3 linked regions of the Homo sapiens genome follow. The protein of the gene in region 1 interacts with the protein of each later gene in a biochemical or structural test. Each region holds a gene or a part of one and is shown on either strand. Other genes may lie near its edges.

Evidence for each region.
Region 2: the proteins of MIS18A (region 1) and OIP5 form a complex in vitro, tested with the Homo sapiens proteins (3 studies listed by BioGRID).
Region 3: the proteins of MIS18A (region 1) and MIS18BP1 form a complex in vitro, tested with the Homo sapiens proteins (2 studies listed by BioGRID).

The regions. Positions count from the first base shown.
Region 1 is NC_000021.9:32,275,138-32,283,920, forward strand, and holds the start of MIS18A (protein Mis18-alpha), read right to left. Parts: upstream 3,913-8,783; 5' UTR 3,878-3,912; coding exon 3,544-3,877; intron 1-3,543. UniProt on the Homo sapiens protein: Required for recruitment of CENPA to centromeres and normal chromosome segregation during mitosis.
Region 2 is NC_000015.10:41,315,592-41,323,306, forward strand, and holds part of OIP5 (protein Mis18-beta), read right to left. Parts: intron 4,190-7,715; coding exon 4,067-4,189; intron 1-4,066. UniProt on the Homo sapiens protein: Required for recruitment of CENPA to centromeres and normal chromosome segregation during mitosis.
Region 3 is NC_000014.9:45,222,203-45,229,917, forward strand, and holds part of MIS18BP1 (mis18-binding protein 1), read right to left. Parts: intron 5,613-7,715; coding exon 5,461-5,612; intron 4,635-5,460; coding exon 4,541-4,634; intron 2,545-4,540; coding exon 1,716-2,544; intron 1-1,715. UniProt on the Homo sapiens protein: Required for recruitment of CENPA to centromeres and normal chromosome segregation during mitosis.

The DNA of each region.
Region 1 (8,783 bases):
CCAAGGTGAGAGAATGGCTTGGGGCCAGGAGTTCGAGGTCAGCCTGGACAACATAACGAGACTCCATCTCTAAAAAAAAATTTTTAAATAAAAATTTAAGAAAAATTTTAAAAGGTTATTTCCTCCCTTTCCCTGAAAACCACTAACATTAATAGAATGGCTAAAATTAGAGGGGAAAATTCATTCCACAGTAAACTTGGAACAAGTAGAACCTCAAATCACACACTGCAAAGAATTATCTGCCAGATAGTGAAATTGGGTTCCAAACCTAGGAAGATGCAAACAGCCAACACATATATCTCCAGATTTCAAACACAGGGCCCATTTCTCTAAAAGTAACTGAGAGGGTCCTCAGGATCCCAGCCACACATCTTTTACTTGAACAATGACTTGGACAGAGGTCACTGCTGGACTTCAGAGGCAGCAGCAAACATTCCCAAAGAATCCAGCTCTAGGAAACACTAAAGGACAGGGTAGAGGGTGAAGAGAAATGAAGAAGGGACATCTGACCTAAAATGGCCAAAACAGACTCTTGATTTCACGGCCTCCTACAGTCTACCTTAACTCGGTAAACTCCAACTCCATCTACCTGCTTGCTGAAATCAGAAACCAGGGTGTCATCCTTGATTCTTTGTCTCCTCATCCTGCTCCCCTGTATCTACTCCACTGATCCATCCCATCAATTCTACCTCACAAACTTCACTCCAGCCCCCAAACCACCAGCACCACCTCTTGCCTGGACTACTGCCCTGGCTCTTCACTAACCTCCCCACTTCCATACTTGTTCCTCCTTCAATGCTTTCTCCAAAGAAAATGCGGGGTCACATTACTCCCCTGCCTAAGCTAGCATAATAACGTACTCACTAGAACAGATTACTACTCTTTAGAACAGACTACAACGCCTTGCAGTTTCTGATCTCTTCCTTCCTCCCTAAATCTTATCTTTATTCTCTTTAACCAGTCTCAAGGCTTTTGCACCAGCTGCTCAGCACCTGTCAAAAGCAAAGAGCGTGACCAAGAACTGTACCTGCAGCCAAGCTAGCATTCACTTATAAATACAGGAAAATAATCCCAGCACTTTGGGAGGCCGAGGCAGGCGGATCATGAGGTCAGGAGATCGAGACCATCCTGGCTAACATGGTGAAACCCCGTCTCTACTAAAGATACAAAAAAATTAGCGGGGTGTGGTGGCGGGAGCCTGCAGTCCCAGCTACTCAGGAGGCTGAGGCAGGAGAATAGCGTGAACCCGGGAGGTGGAGCTTGCAGTGAGCTGAGACTGCACCACTGCACTCCAGCCTGGGCAACACAGTGAGACTCTGTCTCAAAAAAAAAAAAAAAAAAAAAAAAAAGGAAAATATTTTCTAGCACATAAACTTGAAATTTTCTTGGAGATGTGGACGTGGGGAGCACTAATGATTAATCAAACAATTCAGGAATGAAAAAGCTATTAAGAAGCTTTTTTATGTTAATGAGTACTGGAGTTGGGAAAACAATTTATATAAACTTTATAGGATTGGGTGCTGTAACTCACATCTGTACTCCCAGCACTTTAGGAGGCCGAAGCAGGGGATTGCTTGGGGCCAGGAGTTTGAGATCAGCCTGAGCAACATAGCAAGACTCTGTCTCTACAAAAAATTTAAAGATTAGCCAGGTGTTAGTGTGTATCTGTAGTCCCAAGCTACTTGGGAAGCTGAGCCGGGAGGATAGTTTGAGCAGGCGTTCAAGGTTACATACAGTGAGCTATGATTGCGCCACTGTACTCCAACCTGGGCAACAGAGGGCTGTTAACCCACTATAACCCTATTAAAAAAAAACCTATTAAATAAATAATCCTATTTTAAAAAATCATAGTTAGGCTGTTATAGCTACAGAACAGAATGTAAATGTACAGAATGTAAATGTATAAACCTTGACAAAATGAAAATAATTAAACTAATTCAAATTGGGTAAGGAAGGAATGGAAATGAATCCGAGTTCATTTATTTGTCTTTACTGGGGGGTGTGGGGAGGTGTTAAATCCTATTATCTAAATCTGATAAATCAAAAAATGTATAGTTCTTTAAATTTTAAACTACTATTTTAGAACTATGTTTTAAATTTAAAAGCTATTGTTATAAAAATTAAATAACAAAAACAGTCTTTCTATAAGTAACGCAAAACAACGAAAAGAGCCCACATGGCAAAAAATACACTCTATCGAAACAAACAAATAAAATGAAAGATGTAACATCAAACACGTTATTCCTTAAAAACATGTAAACAAGGGAATCTCATTCAAACAAAGAGCTTTTCCTACCTAACCAAAAATCTGCTTTTTTCTTTTTTTTCTTTTTTGAGACGTTGTCTCGCTCTGTCTCCAGGCTGGAGTGCAGTGGCGCAATCTCGGCCCACTGCAACCTCCGCCTCCCGGGTTCAAGTGATTCTCCTGCCTCAGCCTCCGGAGTGGCTAGGATTACAGGCGCACACCACCATGCCCGGCTAATTTTTTATTTTGGCGAGGCTGATCTGGAATTTTTGTATTTTTAGTAGAGATGGGGTTTCATTCACCATGTTGGCAAGGATGGTCTCAATCTCCGGATCTCGTGATCCGCCCACTTCGGCCTCCCAAAGTGCTGGGATTACAGGCCTGAGGCACCGCGCTCGGCCTGGTTTGATTTTGATAGGTGCAAAGAGTTAATCTCAACTTTCAGTTAACTACTGGACACTGGTGTGCTCCTTTATTCCCAGTATTACACCAAGGAAAACGTTCCAGAAACGTCGATAAGCCGGTGGTGAATTACTGCCATCGGAACATTTACGGCATTCAAAGACAGAAAAAACTTCATCTTGAAAAATCACAATCCAAAAACAACAGCCATTCTTACACCAATTCATAAAAAATATGTGAACCACTTTATCCCTAAATACTGCAAAAACATCAAAATGAGGGAACAGTGGAACAACAGAGGTAAGAGGTAACTGCTAGAACCAGGATTAGAAACTAATTCCTGCCTTCTTCTGAACTCTTTTGCTACATCCTCCTTCCTCGCCAGTTTTCATGGGGTTGTTGGTGCTTTTATTGCAAGTTTCCTTCCCTTTCTTCCCTATAGCACTGTGTTCCGTCAACTCTGCGGCTCTATCACTGGAGGCTGTAGAGGCATCCGCTGATACACCAACAGCCTGCTAATTTCTATGGGGAGTAATAGTACTGGCTGCACCTCAAGTGCTTACAGTCTAGTTGACCATTTGTTTCTCTTTTTTTAGGGTCTTTAAAAGTGTTATTCTTTGTCGCCCTTTGTTTCTGAGTAATGCTCACGATGATGCTGATTCAACCACTGCTCTTCTGGGATCGGGGACCCCAGAAAAGAACCCACCGCCCGAGAGCCAAAGTGGAGGGGTGACCCTCCTCCCCTTTTCCTGCCACAGCTCACACTCTCAGACTTTTTGCTCTTAAAGTCCCTGGGCAGCCCCAAGGAGCCCCCGCCTCCTCCCGGGCCGCCCACGCGCGGCACCCCTGGAAGAAGGCGACCCCACGCCCCCCCTGCCCGGCTCGACCCAACTGACAGCGAAGCAGGATGCAGTTGGTGTCCTCCTGGCTGGCCACCCAGCTCAGCGAGTCGCCCAGCGGCCGCCGGCAGCCGGAGCACAGGAACACCAGCGGCCTCTCCTCCGCAGCCGCCGCCTCCTCCTCCAGCTGCGCCCTCTCCATGTCGGCCACCGACGCGTCTTCGCTCATGGAGCTCCACATGCTCGCCCACTTCTGCAACAGCTGGTGGCGGCTCGAGTCTTCGGAGAGTCTCTTGCCCAACAGCGAGGAGTCGCTGCATTTGCCCTTGTCGCCGCACTCACAGCCGCCAGCGCATCCTCTGCTACACCTCAGTGACCGAACGCCTGCCATTACCTACAAATCGCCCGCGCCCCAGAGCGCCATGGGAAAAAAAACCGCCGCTGCTCATGCGCGGGGCGGGGAGCGGTGGCGGAGGCCGAGAAGGGGCAAAAGCCTGAAGGGGGCGGGACGGCGGGCGGCCTCTAGTGCGCATGCGCGCCGTGCGGCCTTGGCCAAGCGTGATAGTCACTGCGCCTGCGTCAGGTTTTCCAGCCTGAAGAAATTGATGATGCAGACCTGTTTGCTTGTCTTCCTAAGGATTATTCACCCCTTTCCGTGGGAGGGGCAGCGTCACTGAGAAAGTTACGGGTTGCAAGCTTGAGTGTCTAAGAACCGCCTGGCGAGCTTCTTAAGCAGATCGCCAGGTTCCATCTTCGCAGACTCTGGTTCAGCAGGTAGCAGGTTAGCCCGAGAATCTGCATTTCTAACAAGCTCCTAGGCGTGCCCACGCTGTCAGTATTGGCAGCCCAACCTTTTTTGGGGGGTGGGGGGGGGAGTTTTTCTATGTTGCCGGTCTCGAACTCCTAGCCTTAAGCGATCTTCCCTACTCGGCCTCCCAAAATGCCAGGATCGCAAGCGTAAGCCACTGTGCCAGACCACCACCCTTTTTCTTCTTTTTTGTAAGTGGACTAATTATAGTTGTATATAAGCAGCTCCACTTTTGATGACCACTGCTCTATTTTGTCGGCTCCTGGGGACCTCCTTTCCATGAAGTGGAGAAGGAAGGGGATAGAGGAGTCCCTCATCACAGGGTCCTTTTGCGCACTGCTATCCCTGGAATGAGACCCTGGGAAGGGCCCCGGATCACTCAGGCTGTCACTGCAAGGAAAAAGTTGAGGAAGCAGCAGTGCCCCTGGAAAGCCTGGAAGTGTCCCTGCTGCTTGGATCAAGGAACAATTCGTCCTTGCAAGGAAGAAGCATCCCTTGTTGATGATAAGGACAGATTTCCTCAGCTGCCCCAGAAAGCCAGCCTCTGCCTAAAACACCGTAGGTCAGGAGGGAAAGCTGGCGGGGAACCAGCCAGCTGCACCACAGACAGTCTGGTGGTATACCTGGGAAGAAAGCTACCTGCAAGGACCTACTCTGTTCCTACTACGCTCTGGGTGTCCCCCAAGTCACTGCCTATTTTGCTTGGTTGCATAAACTATTTATGTAAATGTACTTCCAATTTTAGTGCTTACAGCCACTAGCAAAAAGCAAAAGCTTTGGAGTCAGTGGTCCTGGTTAACTTACCCCTCCCTCCACAAGGTAGTAACAGTGTAGGGAACTGTGGAAAAGGCTGTTTGCCTTCCCTGAGTCTAATTCTTCATGGAGTAAATGGAGTCTGTTTCTTCAGTACTACACCAAGTTGTTCATGAGGATCGAGTTTTCTAATATTCATGAAAATACTTTGTAAACCCTGGCACACCATGCTCATGTTAATCACCTTCTTACTGGAAGAAAATGCTTTAGATAATTTAGGCTTTTTTTTTTTACCCATAGAATTCCCTTCCTTCCTTCTGCTTTTTTTTTTCTTTTCTTTATTTTTTCAGAGATGATGTTTCAGTATGTTGCCCAGGCTGGTCTCGAACTCCTGGCCTCAAGCGATCCTCCTGCCTCAGCCTCCCAAGTAGCTGGAACTACAGGCATGCCTCACCATACTTTGCCCCTTCTACTTTTGTAGAGCCAAGCCTGACCTTCCTGGACTGTTGTTTTCAAGCATAATATCTCTGGTACAACATTGATACAATCCACATGAGTTCTTTAAGTAAGTGGCTAGTTACTTGGGGATTCAAAGGATCATCTTGTCTCAGACTTTGGGTTCCTATTGTCAATACTTAAATTCTATGATAGGATGCCCCAGGAAAGAAGGAATACAAGGCCGAGCTGCGTGGTGACTTTCAGGGGCCCTATTTTTGCCTTAGTAGGCCTTTCTCTCCATAAAACAGTTAATAAAAATTTCATTTTATAGTCACATTGCTATGAAGATGATTATATTAAAATGATATCATAAAACATTTTTAGACCTGTAAGTTCATTTATTGCTCTTGATTAAAAAAATTGAAACATTTTCATGGTCCTTCAGAATATCATGGTTTGTAGGCATGATGCCTCCTGCACATCATGGAGAAGTTGGCTGATGCAAAATGAATTCCTCTATAGGCACAAGTGTGTTTGTATTAATATTATGAATATAAAAACAAGGCTAGCCATGGTGGCTCATGCCTGTAACCCCGGCACTTTGGGAGGCTGAAGCGAGAGAGTCACTTGAGCCCAGGAGTTTGAGAACAACCTGGGCAACATAGAGAGACCCTGTCTCTACAAAGATTTCAAAATTAGCCAGGCATGGTGGTGCGCCCCTGTAGTCCCAGTTGCTTGTGAGGCTGAGGCAGGAGGATGGGTTGGGCTTGGGAGGTCGAGGCTGCAGTAAGCTGTGATTATGCTATTGCACTCCAGCCTGGGTGACAGAATGAGATCCTGTCTCAAAAAAATAAAAAACAAAACAAAACCTCAGCTAACCACAAAATCATCATATTTATGGGAGGACAAAATGAGATGCTTGAAAAAGATGACCTCGTAGTTTGTGGTTGTGGTTGCTTCCTAAACTACATTCTCACCGTACTTCCTAGTTATCTAACTAGGAGATTTGGATAAGGTTGAGTCCATCTCCACCACTCTCACCACCAGTTCCGGGAATGAGTCCCTAGAGGTTTAACCCGATCAATCAGGATGACCATGACTCTTCCATAGCGATTGGGGCAGGGATGGCACCTACCCCTGGCGACCCGTGCTGCTCCCCTGGCAATAGGGATTGGCTCAGAATAAAAACTTGGCCTTGTCAAGTTCAATTTTGCCCAATCTGAGTAAGGGAATCACAGAGAAACAGCACCCAATCTCTAGATCCTTCCAGTTGTGTGAGCCAACCAGTTCCAGTTATTGTGGAAGCCAGTTTCAATTGTTGTTTTGTTTTTACTAGCAACCAAAAATGTATGTAGCAATCTGTTACAGTATGTTAAAATTGAAGTTTCCACTAAGACTCCAAGATGAAGTAAAAATGAGATATCAAAGTGTGTGTGAGAGAGATTGCCCTCCTTCCTGGGGGAATCTTCAGAGTAGATTTAGGAGAGATGATTTCCTCCTGCTTATTATTATTTTTTTTTTTTTTGGAGTCTCACTCTGTCACTCAGGCTGGAGTGCAGTGACATGATCTCAGCTCACTGCAACCTCCACCTCCCAGGTTCAAGGGATTCTCCCACCTCAGCCTCCCGAGTAGCTGGGATTACAGGCACGTGCCACCACACCCAGCTAATCTTTGTATTTTTAGTAGAGACGGGGCTTTACCATGTTGACCAGGCTGGTCTTGAACTCCTGACCTCAGGTAATCCACCCACCTCGACCTCCCAAAGTGCTGGGATTACAGGCATGGGCCACCATGCTAGCTGATTTCCTCCTTCTCTTAAACACCTCTCTCACACACTTTGGGAATATAAAGGAAGGGAGAAAATCGTGACCAAGATGACTTCACTGGAAGGATCTCTTTGGAGATGGGCCCCTCCCCAATAGAGAAAATGAGGGTATCTGCCTCCTTGCCTCAATTTGGCTGATAAGAGACTTTGAGGAGACACTTACATACCTGTTGGTTCCCAGGCACTTGGGGACAGGGTGACCTGCAGGAGCGTCAAGCTGCGTGTGTTTTGGTAGCACAACAAAGGCAAACAAGGTAGGTTGTCAGCCAGATCGGAACTTTGCTGGCAGGATGTCACCTAGAGTCTTAATTTCTGCCTAAGGAGCTAACCTGGAAGCACGAAGACTCCCCAGTGGTGAGTCAAGTGTGAACAGCACTCCTGGAGAACCAGGGCAGAGGGAAAGCCAGCCTGAGATGAGGCCTTGCCCAGTGGGTCATGGGCATGCACTGGGATTTGGGATGTGCAGGGAGTCCCCGAGGGGACTAGGAGAGAGGGTCAGGTCTAACTAGATCTTACCTAAGAGTGCAAAACAAAGTTAGAACAAGTTCAAGTGTGTATTAGTCCGTTCTCATGCTGCTATAAAGAACTACTTGAGACTGGGTAACTTATAAAGGAAAGAGGTTTAACTGACTCACAGTTCTGCATGGCTTGGGGAGGCCTCAGGAAACTTGCAATCATGGCGGAAGACAAAGGGGAAGCAAAGCACGTCTTACGTGGCAGCAGGAGAGAGAGAGAGCAAGCCAAGGGGAGGTGCCACACTTTAAAACCACCAGATCTCGTGAGAACTCACTATCATGAGAACAGCCTGGGGGAACTGCCCCCATGATCCAATTACTCCCACCACGCCCCTCCCTCAACACATGGAGATTGCAATTCAAGATGAGATTTGGGTGGGAACACAGAGCCAAACCATATCAAAGTGAAAACTGTCCTATCCCCCACTTTCCCCATCTCAGGCTAGGCAGAAATGAAAACCGCAGGGAACAGGTGAGGTGGGAAAGAGCAGGGCCAGCCACAGCCCCTTCCCCACCTGAGGCAGGGAAGGCTAAGGCGGCCTATGTCCTACCTGGGGCAAAGGGAAAACAGTTCTCATCCTGTAGTGAAGATTGCCATGTTGATTAGTATCTTGGACTGACGCTACCATTTCTTCACTGGGATTCTGTTTGCAATGAAAGTGCCTACAGAATTGTCTATTCCCTAAGAGGACCTTAGAAGAACACAGAGAGCATGCACTAAAATTCTGCTCGTGTGGGGAGGGATTCTTTGCAAAGGTTTGTAGGAGAGAACCATGAGGGATGGTACAGGAATCCAGGTTAAAAGCAATGAGGCCAACACCACCCCTCCCTCGACCTAGAGGGATGCTGGGCGAGGTTACCAGAAAGAAGGAGAGTTGCGAAGAGCAGACCACCTTGAGACAATCACCTTCCATCCAGGGTCACAGTCACCAGCTGGGGTGACCTCATAGGGAGGGA
Region 2 (7,715 bases), on another chromosome or scaffold:
ACTTAATCAAAAAGAATGTCCTGACCTTTTATCCAACTCATTTTAAAGATTAAGAAATTAACCAAAATCCCATAATGCTTTTCAAATTTATGTTAAAAATATGTTACTAAAAGCTTACTGCCCTAACAAAAATGCAATTATTGCTTCTCTAGAACATTTACTTTTGTACTGATTTCTAAAAAAGATGTGGGATTACTAACAGCACACATTTACAGTTTTTTTTCCCACTTTAAAGTTAATTCTAAATAGAAATTGCTTAAGAATCTAGAAATTGGTGGCGCAGTGGCTCACACCTGTAATCCCAGCACTTTAGGTGGCCAAGGCAGGAGATCAAGACCATGCTGGCTAACACGGTAAAACCCCGTCTCTACTAAAAATACAAAAAAATTAGCCAGACATGGTGGCGGGCGCCTGTAGTCCCAGCTACTCGGGAGGCTGAGGCAGGACAATGGCGTGAACCTGGGAGGCGGAGCTTGCAGTGAGCCGAGATGGTGCCACTGCACTCCAGCTCCAGCCTGGGCGAAAGAGCAAGACTCCGTCTCAAAGAAAAAAAAAAAGAATCTAAAAATTGAGGCTGGGCATGGTGATTAATGCCTGTAATCTTAACATTTTGGGAAGCCCAGGCAGGAGAATCACTTGAACCCAGGAGGTGCAGGTTGCAGTGAGCTGAGATCATGCCATTGCACTTCCAGCCTGGGTGACAGAGTGAGACTCCGTCTTTAAAAAAAGAGAATGATCAATCCATCTCAGGATCTCAGGTATATATTTTGTGTTGGAAATTTGCAATGAAGAACAAATGGTATACCTAATGCACAGTGAGCAACCCATGGTAAAGGACTGGCTGATAAGTTTTATTGTTTAGTCAACCATAACTCAGCTAAAAACATCTATCTAAGCATAAGAAATGAGAAAAAGCGGCCGGGCGCGGTGGCTCATGCCTGTAATCCCAGCACCTTAGGAGGCCAAGGCGGGCGGATCACGAGGTCAAGGAGATCGAGACCATCCTGGCTAACACAGTGAAACCCCGTCTCTACTAAAAATACAAAAAATTAGCCAAGCGTGGTGGTGGGCGCCTGTAGTTCCAGCTACTTGGGAGGCTGAGGCAGGAGAATGGTGTGAACCCAGGGGGTGAAGCTTACAGTGAACCAAGATCACGTCACTGCACTCCAGCCTGGGCGCCACAGCAAGACTCCATCTCAAAAAAAAAAAAAAAAAAAAAGACATGAGAAAAAGGAAACCTTTTAGTTTTATGAAAGGAAAATAAGCTTTTGAGTTAAGACATGCTCAAATCTCAGCTCTTCCACCTCTTTGAGCCCTAGTTTTCTTAAACTATATTAAGAACTCAGTGATATAAGCATAATGCCTACATAAACTAGGTTGTCAATGCTTGTTTTTGTTTTTTAATGGTCAAGGAAAGACTTCTAAGGATGTTTCAGTTTCTTGTAATAAGTAAAAAAGCTTAAGTTAAAAGTGCAATTTATTAGGAAAATAATGAAATAGCCAATGTAATTCATGAGAAAGGATAACCAGTAGGGTAGTTTTTCTGACACTATGAGGCTACATGATCATTATTTTTACTTTTCTCTGTGTCTGCTTCATGTTTTACTGCAGAGAAGACTTCCCTGCAGCTACATGCATCACATGGGAAATAGCTATCCCATACATAGAGCTTTCACTTCCAAACTTCAACACTAGTACTATCTACACGTAACTGGTATTTCTGGGCCCTTGTTTCAAATTCCTAAGGTAGAAAACTGGTTGGCTTAGTTTGGGTCAGGTATCCATTTTTCTTTTTTTTTTTTTTTTTGAGACAGAGTCTCGCTCTGTTGCCAGGCTGGAGTGCAGTGGCGCGATCTTGGTTCACTGCAACCTCTGACTCCCCGGTTCAAGTGATTCTCCTGCCTCAGCCTCCCAAGTAGCTAGGATTACAGGCATGCGCCACCATGCCCAGCTAATTTTTTTTGTATTTTTAGTAGAGACGGGGTTTCCCATGTTGGCCAGGATGATCTCGATCTCCTGACCTCATGATCTGCCCACCTCGGCCTCCCAAAGTACTGGGGTTACAGGCGTGAGCTACCACGCCCAGCACCGTTTTTGGTTTTTAAGAGACAGGGTCTTGCTCTGCTCCCCATGCTAGAATACAGTGACACAATCATAGCTCACTGTAACCTTGAACTCCTGGGCTGTAGCTATCCTCCCACCTTAGCCTCCAGAGTAGCTAGGACTACAGGCATACACCACCATACACAGTTAATATTTTAAATTTTTTGTAGAGACAGAGTCTTGCTATGTTGCCTAGGCTGGTCTCAAACTCCTAAGCTCAAACAATCCTCCAACTCAGCCTTCCAAAGTGCTGAGATTACAGGCATGACCCACCATGCCTGGCCAGGTATTCATTCTTGATCCAGTACCTGGGAGTGGGAATCACACATGATACAAATCACACATGATACAAATATACAAGGCCCCACCTATTAGAGGGAGAGAGAGGCTGGGCACAAACCCAAAAGGTATCTACTGCAACATTATTTTGCAAAAGCTTGCCTTCTAGAATGTTCTTTTTATCTTTTATTTATTTTTATTTTTTCTGAGACAGAGTCTAGCTCTGTCACCCAGGCTGAAGTGCAGTGGCTTGATCTTGGCTCACTGCAACCTCCGCCTCCTGGGTTCAAGCAATTCTTCTGCCTCACCTCCCGAGTAGCTGCGACCACAGGCGTGTGCCACCACACTTGGCTTATTTTCGTATTTTAAATGGAGATGGGGTTCCACCATGTTGGCCAAGCTGGTCTCGAACTCCTGACCTCAGGTGAACCCCCGACCTCAGCCTCCCAAAGTGCTGGGATTACAGGCGTGAGCCACTGCACCCGGCCCATAAGGGAGCAGTTTGAGATGGGAGGCTTCACCATGTTGCCTAGGCTGGTCTCAAACACCAAGATTCAAGTGATCCTCCTGCCTCAGCCTCCTGGGTAGCTAGAATTACAGGCACACACCACCACATCTGGCAACAAGTTTCTTTAATGAAAGAATACCCTCTGAATTTTCCCATGGTATGACTTTTAAGATATGGTATGATAAGACATGGAAGATAATCATAATGTTATAAGATTATATTTTGGTCCCACTGCTTTTTTTTTTTTTTGTCACCCAAAGTGGAATGCAGTGGTATGATCACAGCAAAATGTAACCTTGAACTCCTGGGCTCAGGTGATCCTCCCACCTCAGCCTCCCAAGTAACTGGGACTATAGGGGCACGCCGCCACATCCAGCTAATTTTTTAAAATTTTGTATAAAAAAAAAACAGGAGTCTCACTATATTGCCCATGGAGGTCTTGAACTCCTGCCCTCAAGCAGTCCTCCCACCTTGGCCTCACAAAGCATTGGCATTACAGGCGCGAGCCATCACACCTGGCCCACTGCTATCTTTTTGTCAAAGACAGTGCCTGACTTTAGCATCTTTTTGGTACAAACACTTTGTCTTTTTTCTTTTTTTTTTTTTTGAGACAGAGTCTTGTTCTGTCACCCAGGCTGGAGTGTAGTGGTGCAATCTCAGCTCACTGTGCAACCTCCACCTCTCAGGTTGAAGCAATTCTCTTGCCGCAGCCTCCCAAGTAGCTGGGATTACAGGTGTGCACTAGCATGCCCAGCTACTTTTTTTTTTTTTTCCTTTGGACAGAATCTCACTATGTCTCCCAGGCTGGAGTGCAGTGGCGTGATCTCACAGTGGCGTGATCTCAGCTCACTGCAGCCTCTGCCTCCCAGGTTCCAACAATTCTCGTGCCTCAGCCTCCTGAGTAGCTGGGATTACAGGCGTCTACCACTACACCTGGCTAATTTTTGTATTTTTCGTAGAGATGGGTTTCACCATGTTAGCCAGGCTGGTCTCAAACTCCTGACCTCGAGTGATCCACCGCCTCAGCCTCCTAAAGTGCTGGGATTACAGGCATAAGCCACTGTGCTCAGCCTACTTTGTCTTTCCTGAAAAACCTTTTAAAATTTATTTGATGGACTTTGTCTCAAAATAAATAAAATAAAATGTATTTGATGATCAATATCTAAGTCTACTCACCACACCATTTTGTCACTGGAAAGGCAGAAGTGACCTCTCAAGGCAGCCAGGGCAGCATGGGTAGAATACAGATGGAAACCAACGGGAATCCCACAAGAACCACAGAATAAAAGGTTGTAAGTACTAGGGGTGGGGAAAAACACAATATGGGTAAGAATAAAAAATCATATAAGAAATAAAAAATAACTAGTCTCTGAAGCATTCCTAACACCTAAGTCAGGGTGAAAATTACATTGTAATAGGAATGAGACGGAAAGAATGTCACATTCAAGAAAGGGTAACTCAGATTGTAATTTAATTACATGCTGGATTGCGGATACCCTCGTATATTCTGGTCAAAGCAATCATGGATGTATAATTGTCGCTTCAGAAGAGAAAGGTAATTTACCCCTAATAAACACAAAAAGAGCTAACTAATCTGATTAACATTTAAACATTTAAAACTACAAATCATGTAAAATGGCTATCATTATATAAATTCACAGTTGTTGAAAAATAATCAAGTTGACTGGGGCCTTACTAAACAAATTGTTCATAGAACTAAAATCAAGGTTTGTCTTTTGCTTATATTAAAAAAGAAAGTTAATGAAAAAAATGCGCCCTCTCCCTCTCCCTCCTCTCCCCACGGTCTCCCTCTCCCTCTCTTTCCACGGTCTCCCTCTGATGCCAAGCCAAAGCTGGACTGTACTGCTGCCATCTCGGCTCACTGCAACCTCCCTGCCTGATTCTCCTGCCTCAGCCTGCCGAGTGCCTGCGATTGCAGGCACGCGCCGCCACACTTGACAGGTTTTCATATTTTTTTGGTGGAGACGGGGTTTCGCTGTGTTGGCTGGGCTGGTCTCCAGCTCCTAACCGCGAGTGATCCACCAGCCTCGGCCTCCCAGGGTGCCGGGATTGCAGACGGAGTCTCGTCTCGTTCACTCAGTGCTCAATGGTGCCCAGGCTGGAGTGCAGTGGCATGATCTTGGCTCGCTACAACCTCCACCTCCCAGCCGCCTGCCTTGGCCTCCCAAAGTGCCGAGATTACAGCCTCTGCCCAGCCGCCACCCCGTCTGGGAAGTGAGGAGCGTCTCTGCCTGGCCACCCATCGTCTGGGATGTGAGGAGCCCCTCTGCCTGGCTGCCCAGTCTGGAAAGTGAGGAGCGTCTCTGCCCGCCCGCCATCCCATCTAGGAAGTGAGGAGCGCCTCTTCCCGGCCGCCATCCCATCTAGGAAGTGAGGAGCGTCTCTGCCCGGCCTCCCATGGTCTGAGATGTGGGGAACGCCTCTGCCCTGCCGCCCCGTCTGGGATGTGAGGAGCGCCTCTGCCCGGCCGCGACCCTGCCTGGGAGGTGAGGAGCGTCTCTGCCCGGCTGCCCCATCTTGAGAAGTGAGGAGACCCTCCGCCCGGCAGCCTCCCTGTCTGAGAAGTGAGGAGCCCCTCCGCCCGGCAGCCACCCCATCTGGGAAGTGAGGAGCGTCTCCGCCCGGCAGCCACCCTGTCGGGGAGGGAGGTGGGGGGTCAGCCCCCCGCCCAGCCAGCCGCCCCGTCCAGGAGGGAGGTGGGGGGGTCAGCCCCCCGCCCGGCCAGCCGCCCCGTCCGGGAGGGAGGTGGGGTGGTCCAGCCCCCCGCCCGGCCAGCCGTCCCGTCCTGGAGGGAGGTGGGGGGGTCAGCCCCCCGCCCGGCCAGCCGCCCCGTCCGCGAGGTGATGGGCGCCTCTGCCCGGCCGCCCCTACTGGGAAGTGAGGAGCCCCTCTGCCCGGCCACCACCCTGTCTGGGAGGTGTACCCAACAGCTCATTGAGAATGGGCCATGATGACAATGGCAGTTTTGTGGAATAGAAAAGGGGGAAAGGTGGGGAAAAGATTGAGAAATCGGATGGCTGCTGTGTCTGTGTAGAAAGAAGTAGACATGGGAGACTTTTCATTTTGTTCTGTACTAAGAAAAATTCTTCTGCCTTGGGATCCTGTTGATCTATGACCTTACCCCCAATCCTGTGCTCTCTGAAACATGTGCTGTGTCCACTCAGGGTTAAATGGATTAAGGGCGGTGCAAGATGTGCTTTGTTAAACAGATGCTTGAAGGCAGCATGCTCCTTAAGAGTCATCACCACTCCCTAATCTCAAGTACCCAGGGACACAAACACTGCGGAAGGCCGCAGGGTCCTCTGCCTAGGAAAACCAGAGACCTTTGTTCACTTGTTTATCTGCTGACCTTCCCTCCACTATTGTCCTATGACCCTGCCAAATCCCCCTCTGCGAGAAACACCCAAGAATGATCAATAAAAAAATAAATAAATAAATAAATAAATAAAAAAGAAAAAAATGCGCAGACTAAAAGAGAAAGAAAAGGGAATCCTATTACCCTAGCAAGCCATCTATTTTGTTTTCCTTATCCTCTGAAAAGATTACTGATGAAGAGTCAGATGTTGATTTTAGCTCTCATTACAATTCTTGAGCAAGTCATCATATTTGCTGGTATATAAGACATATTTAAATATTAGAAAGAAACATTTTGGTCAGGCACAGTGGTTCACACCTACTGTAATCCCAGCACTATGAGAGGCCAAAGTGGGCAGATAGCTTGAGCCCAGGAATTCGAGAGCAGCCTAGGCAACATGGTAATACCCCGTCTTAAAAAATAAATAAATGTTTTACAAGAAAAGCACTTTAAGAAAATATTTCATCATGCATGTGCTAAAAGCAATTTTAAAGTGGTTTGGTAAAGGAAAAATAAATTGTATTAATATATAGTATGAAGTTTTTTTTGGTTTTTTTTTGAGACAAGTTCTTGCTCTGTCGCCCAGGTTAGAACGTAGTGATACAATCATAGCTCACTGCAGCCTTGAATTCCTGGGCTCAACTGATCTACCTGCCTCAGCTTCCCAAAGCTGGGACTACAGGTGCATGCTACCATGCCCTACTAATTTTTTTTTTGGCAGAAATGGGGTCTTACTTTGTTTCCCAGGCTAGGAGAATTCTATTAACAAAATACAACATAAAAATCACATAGCTAGCCCGGGCATGATGGCTCACGCCTGTAATCCCAGCACTTTGGGAGGCCAAGGCGGGTGGATCACCTGAGGTCAGGAGTTCGAGACCAGCCTGGCCAACGTGGCGAAACCCTGTCTCTACTAAAAATAAAAAAATTAGCCAGGCCTGGTGGCGGGTGCCTGTAATCCCAGCTACTTAGGAGGGTGAGGCAGGAGAATCGCTTGAACCTGGGAGGCGGAGGTTGCAGTGAGCGGAGATTGTGCCACTGCACTCCAGCCTGGGCAACAAGAGCGAAACTCCATCTTAAAAAAGAAAAAAAAAAATCACATAGCTAAAAAGAAATATTCATGTCAGTGGATACTAAAAAAGAACAAATAACAATATATTGAGTTTATTGGTAAATGAAGTCCCACACCCACACCACACATATAGTAATGTAATCTTGTGAATATAGTTAACCAAAAAGCAAAATATGAAATAAAGTGTCATTAATTTGAAATTCCACGTAGGAATTAATTAATTCAGACAAAGCACAGTACTTATAAACAAATGTCTCAGTGGAAATTAATTTAATTTCCATTCGGGCGCAATGGCTCACGCTTGTAATCCCAGCATTTTGGGAGGCAGGCAGATCACTTGAGATCAGGAGTTTGAGAACAGCCTGGTCAACATGGTG
Region 3 (7,715 bases), on another chromosome or scaffold:
AATTGGTATGTTTAGACCATTTAATTTAATTATGTTGGATTTAGGTCAATAATTTTATTATTTGTTTTCTGCTTGTTCCATGTAAAAAAATCCTCCACTTCTCTTCTTCTTTGCCTTCTTTTGGGCTATTTGATTTTCCAGTATTTTAATTTATGTTTGAAATTATTTCTTTGTATAGTTTTTTTAGAAGTTGCTCTAGGGATGACATTAAATATACTTAACTTCAACAGTCTACTTAGAATCAATATTTTACTGCTTCAAGTGAAATGTTAATATTTTTATTTTAGCAGGTCATCAACCTGGTGGTATCCCAAGCTATACGTTCAGTCTACTATCATTGTTGTTTCAATGTCAGTTTCATTTTTCAAAGCTCTGCAGTGCTGTTAGGATCTTCCTGTGTGTGGGACACTGAGTAGCTAGCCTAGAAACTGGGTGTGGTCTACTGTTTAGTTCAGTTCTCAGTCTTTTATATGCTCTTTAGGACCATGTCCACATATGTACAACTCCTGGGTGGCATAGAAGTTCATAAACAACTTTATGGGGTTGCTTTTCCTACTTCCTCTCTTTCCGCGATTTCTGGTTCCCTGGAGTTTCCCTTGTCAGTGCTCTGGCCAGAAAGCTGGGGCTTTTATTACTCTGCTCTGCTGTATGCCTCACACAACTGAATTTTTGTCCAGTACCAAGCAACAGACAACAGAAAGAGAACAGAAGCAACAGGTACTTGCCCCACTACTTTGAGGCAACCATTCCTAATTGTAGAGAAGGTTCTCATCTCTCAGAGTTTTAGATATATCTCAGCCCCAGCTGATGCTGTGACTGTAGCCCCTGCAGGATTGCATGGGGACTGAGTTAAGAGAAAAGACAAAAACAAAACAAAACAAAACAAAACAAAACAAAAACAAACCAAACCAAACACTGGGGATTTCCTCTACTGTTTCTGAGTGTCAGAAGTCCCCCTTTCTGCTCCTCAACCCAGAACTGGAGAGCTCCTCTTTAAACTCTCTTTGTTACCCTTCAGTGCCCACTTCTAGGTTTCTAGTATCCTTGAGTCTCACTTGTGGGGCACCAAACTTTACTATTTATAACACTTGTTAGGCCGGGCACGGTGGCTTATGCCTATAATCCCAGCACTTTGGGAAGCCAAGGTGGGCGGATCATTAGGTCAGGAGTTCAAGACCAGCCTGACCAACATGGTGAAACCTCATCTCTACTAAAAATATAAAAATTAGCCAGGCGTGGCAGCGTGCGCCTGTAGTCCCAGCTACTCAGGAGGCTGAGGCAGGAGAATCGCTTGAACCCGGGAGGCAGAGGTTGCAGTAACCGGGATTGTGGCATTGCACTCCAGACGGGGCAGCAGGGCGAGACTCCGTCTCAATCAAAACAAAACAAAACAAAAAACAAAAAAATGCATTTCTTAAAATATGAAGCTACGTGAGAGAGTACTATTTGGCTATCTTGAAATATTACATGGGAATGAAAAGGTCACTTTTACTTTCCTCATACTTAGGCTTTCCTCGTACTTTCCTCGTATTAGAGATGACCACAAAAATACCACTAGGAGTTATGTGTAGTCTATCTCCATTCCCTGTGCAAATTATAATTTCTCCCTTTTTTTTAATGACATCTTCCATGTTAACCCCTTATTGCTATTTTTATGTCTTTAACTGTCTTGTGGCTGCTCTGTAGATATTTCGGAATGAAATCTAACTACTTACCAATGAAGTTTCTGTAACTCCTTCTCATTCCATTCCTTATCCTGAATTAAACCAGGTAAGCATTCTAAGGGATGCCTATTTGTCTTATCAGATCCTACTGCCTCAGTAATTGGAAACTCTTTCCTAACACCAGACTTCTGAAGAGTTTCTTTGACGGAAGGTCTAGCTTTCTTTTGTTTGATATAAAATTCATTTTCACTTTCTTCAGTTTCAGGTTCCAAAATCACTGGAATATTACTTGTGTTTCTTGTGCTCTTTCTCAGGTGAACCACTGCTTCTTTGGTGTTTCCTGCTTTGGTTTTCTTAACTTCAGCTTTCCTTTTAATTTCCTTTTCTGTTTCACTTTCTTCACTTGACAAATCTGGTGAGGACTGATGCTTATAAAATGACATAGCTACCTGATTTTCTATTTTCTTCAATTTTGGTAATAGTCTGGTATTTTTCTTAAAGTCAGAGGTGAGCATTTGTTCCTTTTCAAGGTTAGATATTTTTATTTTCCGGTTGACAGTAAGTAAGTCACGTTCATCGCAATCTTCCTTGTTTTTACTTTTATGACCTTCAAATGTATTTTCTAAAGTCCCCATGGACTTGCTGATGGGACTTTTTTTTTGACACTCTGGTATTACAAAATCTGTTACTGCTTTGATGGTGCCAGCGGACAGATTATACCTCATGCATCTTTGCTCTATCACTTTTCTAGATTTAAGTGGTGTTACTAAAATATAAGCTTTCTTCTGATTGATGGCCATGTATTTTCTTTCTTCATCTGAGAAAAACTGTTCCCTTGAGGTTAGAATATCAATGGATACATCCAATTCTTCAGTTGTCTCTTTAATTTCATAAGACAAAACCAAAGACCAAAATCTCAAATTAGCTATAAACAAATATAAGCACAGAAAATATATTTTCACAAATAAAAGATACTATTTTTATCCACGAGCTACACTGTATACCCACCTGTCATATTAATCTTTCTGAAGCCCAGGTCTATTCAGACCACTGCCCCTTCAACTGTAAACATATACTATTGTTTATACAAACCTGACAGTGACTTCTCACAGTCTTTTAGTAGACATATAAATAAGCTCCTCTGCCTGGCCTTCCACATAGTTCCAATCTCTCACTGTTGTCAAAATCTCAACTATATTCTATGTTCAGAACCACACCACTTGCTATTTCTCAGATTTTCTTGGTTCTCCACTTTTAATAATGTTGTCCACTCTGCTTTGAAGATGTTCTTCATTCATCTATAAACAAAATCACTACCTGCTTCGATTTTATTCTCTAACCCACCTAGTGTACAAACTTGTACACATTCCCTACACTGAATGAAAGCTCTCCTTCAAGTTTCCAGAATACTTTAAATAATGCCATGTTTGACAGTGAGACATGTATTATAATTGCACACTTGTCTTTCAATCAGACTGGAAAAAATAATTAATGGTTAGAACTTTATCTGTATGGTTTGATTTTTTTTTTTGCTGGAGTTAGTACAGAGCCTTTCACATATACAGTAGGCAATAAGTAAATACTTGTTAAATCAAAGCCCTGGAGGTAAAATATTCAGAAGATATAAGAAAACCAGTAGTCACTGAAACCTTACTAAGTATTATATGAGCTGTGCTAGTTAGGAGGACATGGAACTCCATCTGCATGGTTCCACTTTCATTGCCAATGGTGGTCATAGAAACACACTCAAAATGAATCCCCCCAAACACCATGAAGTACAAAACAAGCAAAAGAGAACAACCTGAGAATCTTATATCTTGTCACTAAAGAAAGCAAATTAAAATGAGAACAATTCACCAATTCAAAACCTAAGTAATGAGAAGTCAAACTAACTGAAACTATCCAACTGTAATTAGAAATACATATAAACTGCAAATCATCCCACTGTCATAGAAACATATTACAACCACCTCCACATATTATGTGCCATTGTTTACAAGATGACTGACAGAATGAGACTGATAGATAATATTGAATGCTGGGGAGAAAAGAAGCCTCTAAATTACAATCCGTGGAAAAAGGTAATAATCAAAATAATTTAGAAAGTGTCTACAAGATTTTCCACTGGCATCATATATCTTCAAATTATGAGAAAAGTATTTTCTTCTAACTCCTCATATAAATCCAATTCAAATGTTTACCTGGGAATTTGAAAATTTTCAACATTATAATTTTGAACAATATTTCCATTCAGAGTATTTGTTAATTTTAATAAATTATTTAATAAAGATCCAGCTATCTTGGATACTTAAACCGAATATGAACTCGGAAGTATAAGTAGCACTGCTTTCCTATCTTCTTCAAACAAATAAATGTTCTTCACTTTCACTTCTTTTCACTTATAAGAGGAAATAAAACACAAAAAAATGCTATAAAGCTAATGGATTTAGCTCAACATGAAATTGTAAACTTGCTAACATTTAGACGAAAGCCTCTAAATTATGGCATGCAGGATTCCAATTAAATCACTCTGAAAATCCACACTTAAAACTAAATTATTGTACTAAATTCATAAAAGGATTCACTCTTTACACATTCCTGTAAGCATATGTTAAATGATATATAGTTTTGTGATCTAAACAAATATTTTAGTACCCAGATTAAAGAAGGCAAACCTGTAAGTATAGGTGGTTTTTAAAAGGGCTATTTTATTATGAAAATCATCTTATGTAAAAATAACAAAACCAAACATTTAAAAACATTAAATAATTTGCCATTTTACATGAGGAAATTTACAAGATCACTTTTATCATATTAAAAACATTTCACATAGTAGCTTTCTGCTTATGATTAAAAAACCATTAAAGATATATTACCTTGCTTCTGACTTTTTATTATCCTTTCATTTGTTCTTTCACCAATTTTTAGTTTCTTTGAAGACATTTTATATTCTTTTTTTCCAATTAATTCCTTCAAAACAAAAAGATACCTAGGTTTTATTTTAAAACTACTACCAAAACATGATCTGAAGCATTTTCATAGTATGCATCAAGCATACAAATTTCTAGGTACTTACAGTTCCGCAAATTTCATTAGTGGACACATTCCGAAACTTACTTGCCAGACCTTGAGCACTACGAGCAACATCTGGGAATCCATTATCCTACATATTTTCTACATTAATTTAATACTTTGTGGTTTTTCAAGTGCTTTTAAAAATATGCTTTATTTAAGCTTTACTCTAAAAGCTAAAACTTTTATTGTTGCCTGCATTTTTTCATTGAGAGACAGGGAAAATAAATATCAAGACATTCAGTCCCCAAGTAAATGAAAAGCTGATACTTGAAAAACAGAACTCTTGGCTGGGCGCAGTGGCTCACGACTGTAATCCCAGCACTTTGGGAGGCAGAGGTGGGTGAATCACAAGGTCAGGAGTTCGAGACCAGCCTGGCCAATATGGTGAAACCCCGTTACTACTAAAAATACAAAAATTAGCCAGGCGTGGTGGTGCATGCCTGTAGTCCCAGCTACTCGGGAAGCTGAGGCAGGAGAATCACTCGAACCCAGGAGGTGGAGGTTGAGGCAGGAGAATCACTTGAACCCAGGAGGCAGAGGGTGCAATAAGCCGAGATCACGCCACTGCACTCCAGCCTGGGCAATAGAGGGAGACTCCATCTCAAAAGAAAAAAAAAAAAAAAACAGAACTCACGTCCCTGATATGGTCCCAAACCTTTTCAGTAGTAAATCACCCTTCTAAATATCAACTTGAACTATACAGTGTACAATAAAGCCTTACCTGATTAGATAAGTCATCTCCTCCTCCATTTTGAATAGTATTATTTACTTGGTCATCTGGGAACCTTAATGTTGGTTTATTTTGGCAATTACTGTGGCACATGTTTAATTCTGTAGCTCCTGGTGACTCACTGTGCTTATTACTCTTCAGTTCTATGAATACAAAGATGGAGATTTCAATAAATGGTTATATAAAAGAGAAGCTGCTTTTCTACATGAAGAATTAACTTTGACGCTAGGTGTGGTGGCTCACGCCTGTAATCCCAGCACTCTGGGAGGCCGAGGGAGGAGGATTGCTTGAGCCCAGGAGTTCAAGACTAGCCTAGGCAAAATAGTGATACACTGATTCTACAAAGAATAAAAGGTTGGTGCAAGCCTATGGTCCCAGATACTTGGGAGCCTGAGGTGGGAGGATCACTTGAGCCAGGGAGGTCGAGGCTGCAGTGAGCCGTGATTGTGCCACTGTACTCCAGCCTGGGTGACAGAGCAACACCCTGTCTCAGAAATAATAATGATAATCTGTCTAATCCCTCTGTCATAAATATTTGTTATAATTTGACTAGGATATAAAGCAATTTTATTTGGAAAGAATCACTCTGTATAGCGCTACGCTACATTTTGTTTGAATCACTTTTTTTCCTTCAAAAAAAATTTAAAAAGCCTAGACAGCCATATTATTCACGACCATCTGTTTTGGATCTCCTTTGTCACATCTAAAGACAGAATAGTAAGGTTAATCCATTTTGTAAATAAAAATTCCTGTTCATCCTAACTGCACATCAACTAAATAGAAAGCTAATAACTGTTCTTCTTCTATTTCTTCATGTATGTAGAATTATGTTTCAACTAGTTTATGTACTCCAATGTATAACTAAATTTCTGTAATTAAAATTTTGAGCAAAACTAAATTATACAGTATATAATATATGCTCAACAAACAGTTACTAAGCTGGAATTCTAGGTAAGTTAAAACAGATTCATAAAAAGTATAAAAACATTTTGTTATTTTTCTAGAAGCTATTCTTTAAAGATGTACTGACTAGTCCTTGCTCTTGAAAATATTACCATATAATGAAGGAAGCTTCTATTATGATAGGTCATTTATCATATACTCTGGTAAGTGTAATAACAGAGATAAAGTGCTTTAAGAGCAATACTATGATACACAAGTACTTTTTAGGCAAATCATTAAAACACATACATAAAATTACATTATCTTAAATTAACATGGGTTGGTACCTTTACATAACCTTAGCTATATAATGTTAGATGTGGTTTTGTTTTTTTCATGCAAAGTGCAATGATAATAATAAAATTAATAACAGCCCCAACCACCACTCAAAATAACTTACGTGATATGAAGATAGTGTCTAACAGTTTCATTAAGAAAAGATCTAATGAATTACACTAGAAAAATGATGCAATCATAACAGAATATATTAATATTTGCCCCTAAACCAAGATCCCTGGGGGTGGGGGTGGGGGGAATCATGCCTTATTCATCTCTAAGTTCCTAAAACTTAATAGACCAGGGTTCATGGAAAGCACTTTAAAAATGTTGACACCAGGTGCCATGTTTCATGTCTATAATCCCAGCACTTTGGGAGGCCAAGGTGGGAGGACTGCTTGAGGCCAGGAGTAGGAGACCAGCCTGGCAACATAGTAGGATCCCATCTCTACAAGAAATAAAAAACAAGCCAAGTGCAGTACTGTATGCCTGTAGTCCCAGCTACTTTGGAGGCTGAGGTGGGAGGATTGCTTGAACCAAGGAGGTTGAGGCTGCAGTGAGCCATGATTGCACCACTATATTCCAGCCTGGGAGACAGAGCAAGACCCTGTCTCAAAAAAAAAAAAAAAATTGCTGAGTGATTTTCCTATGGACACAGCTGGTATGTAAAATAGTTTACCAAACTTTAGTCTTTTAAATTTGTATTCATTTCTCTTGTCAATAGCTTTCTTAAACACTTTACTGATAATATTTGCAATTAAGATCAAATCCCTAATAAGTGCTGGCTCTAAGTGAAATGGGGTACAGGAAGAGGTAAGAACCAAGACTAAAGACCAACAAATGATTAAAAGTGAGATATACTGTCAAGGATTTTCTTGTTTTAGGAGTAAAAAAGTAGAGAGCAGGTGCCGAAGCCCCAAGGTTCCAGCATACTCAAGATGCTCCAGCAATAAAAATAGGCAATATGCCTAATTTAGAGAAAATAGGATGACTTTTGATAAAAAGAGGAAGGGTTGAGAAGGAACTAG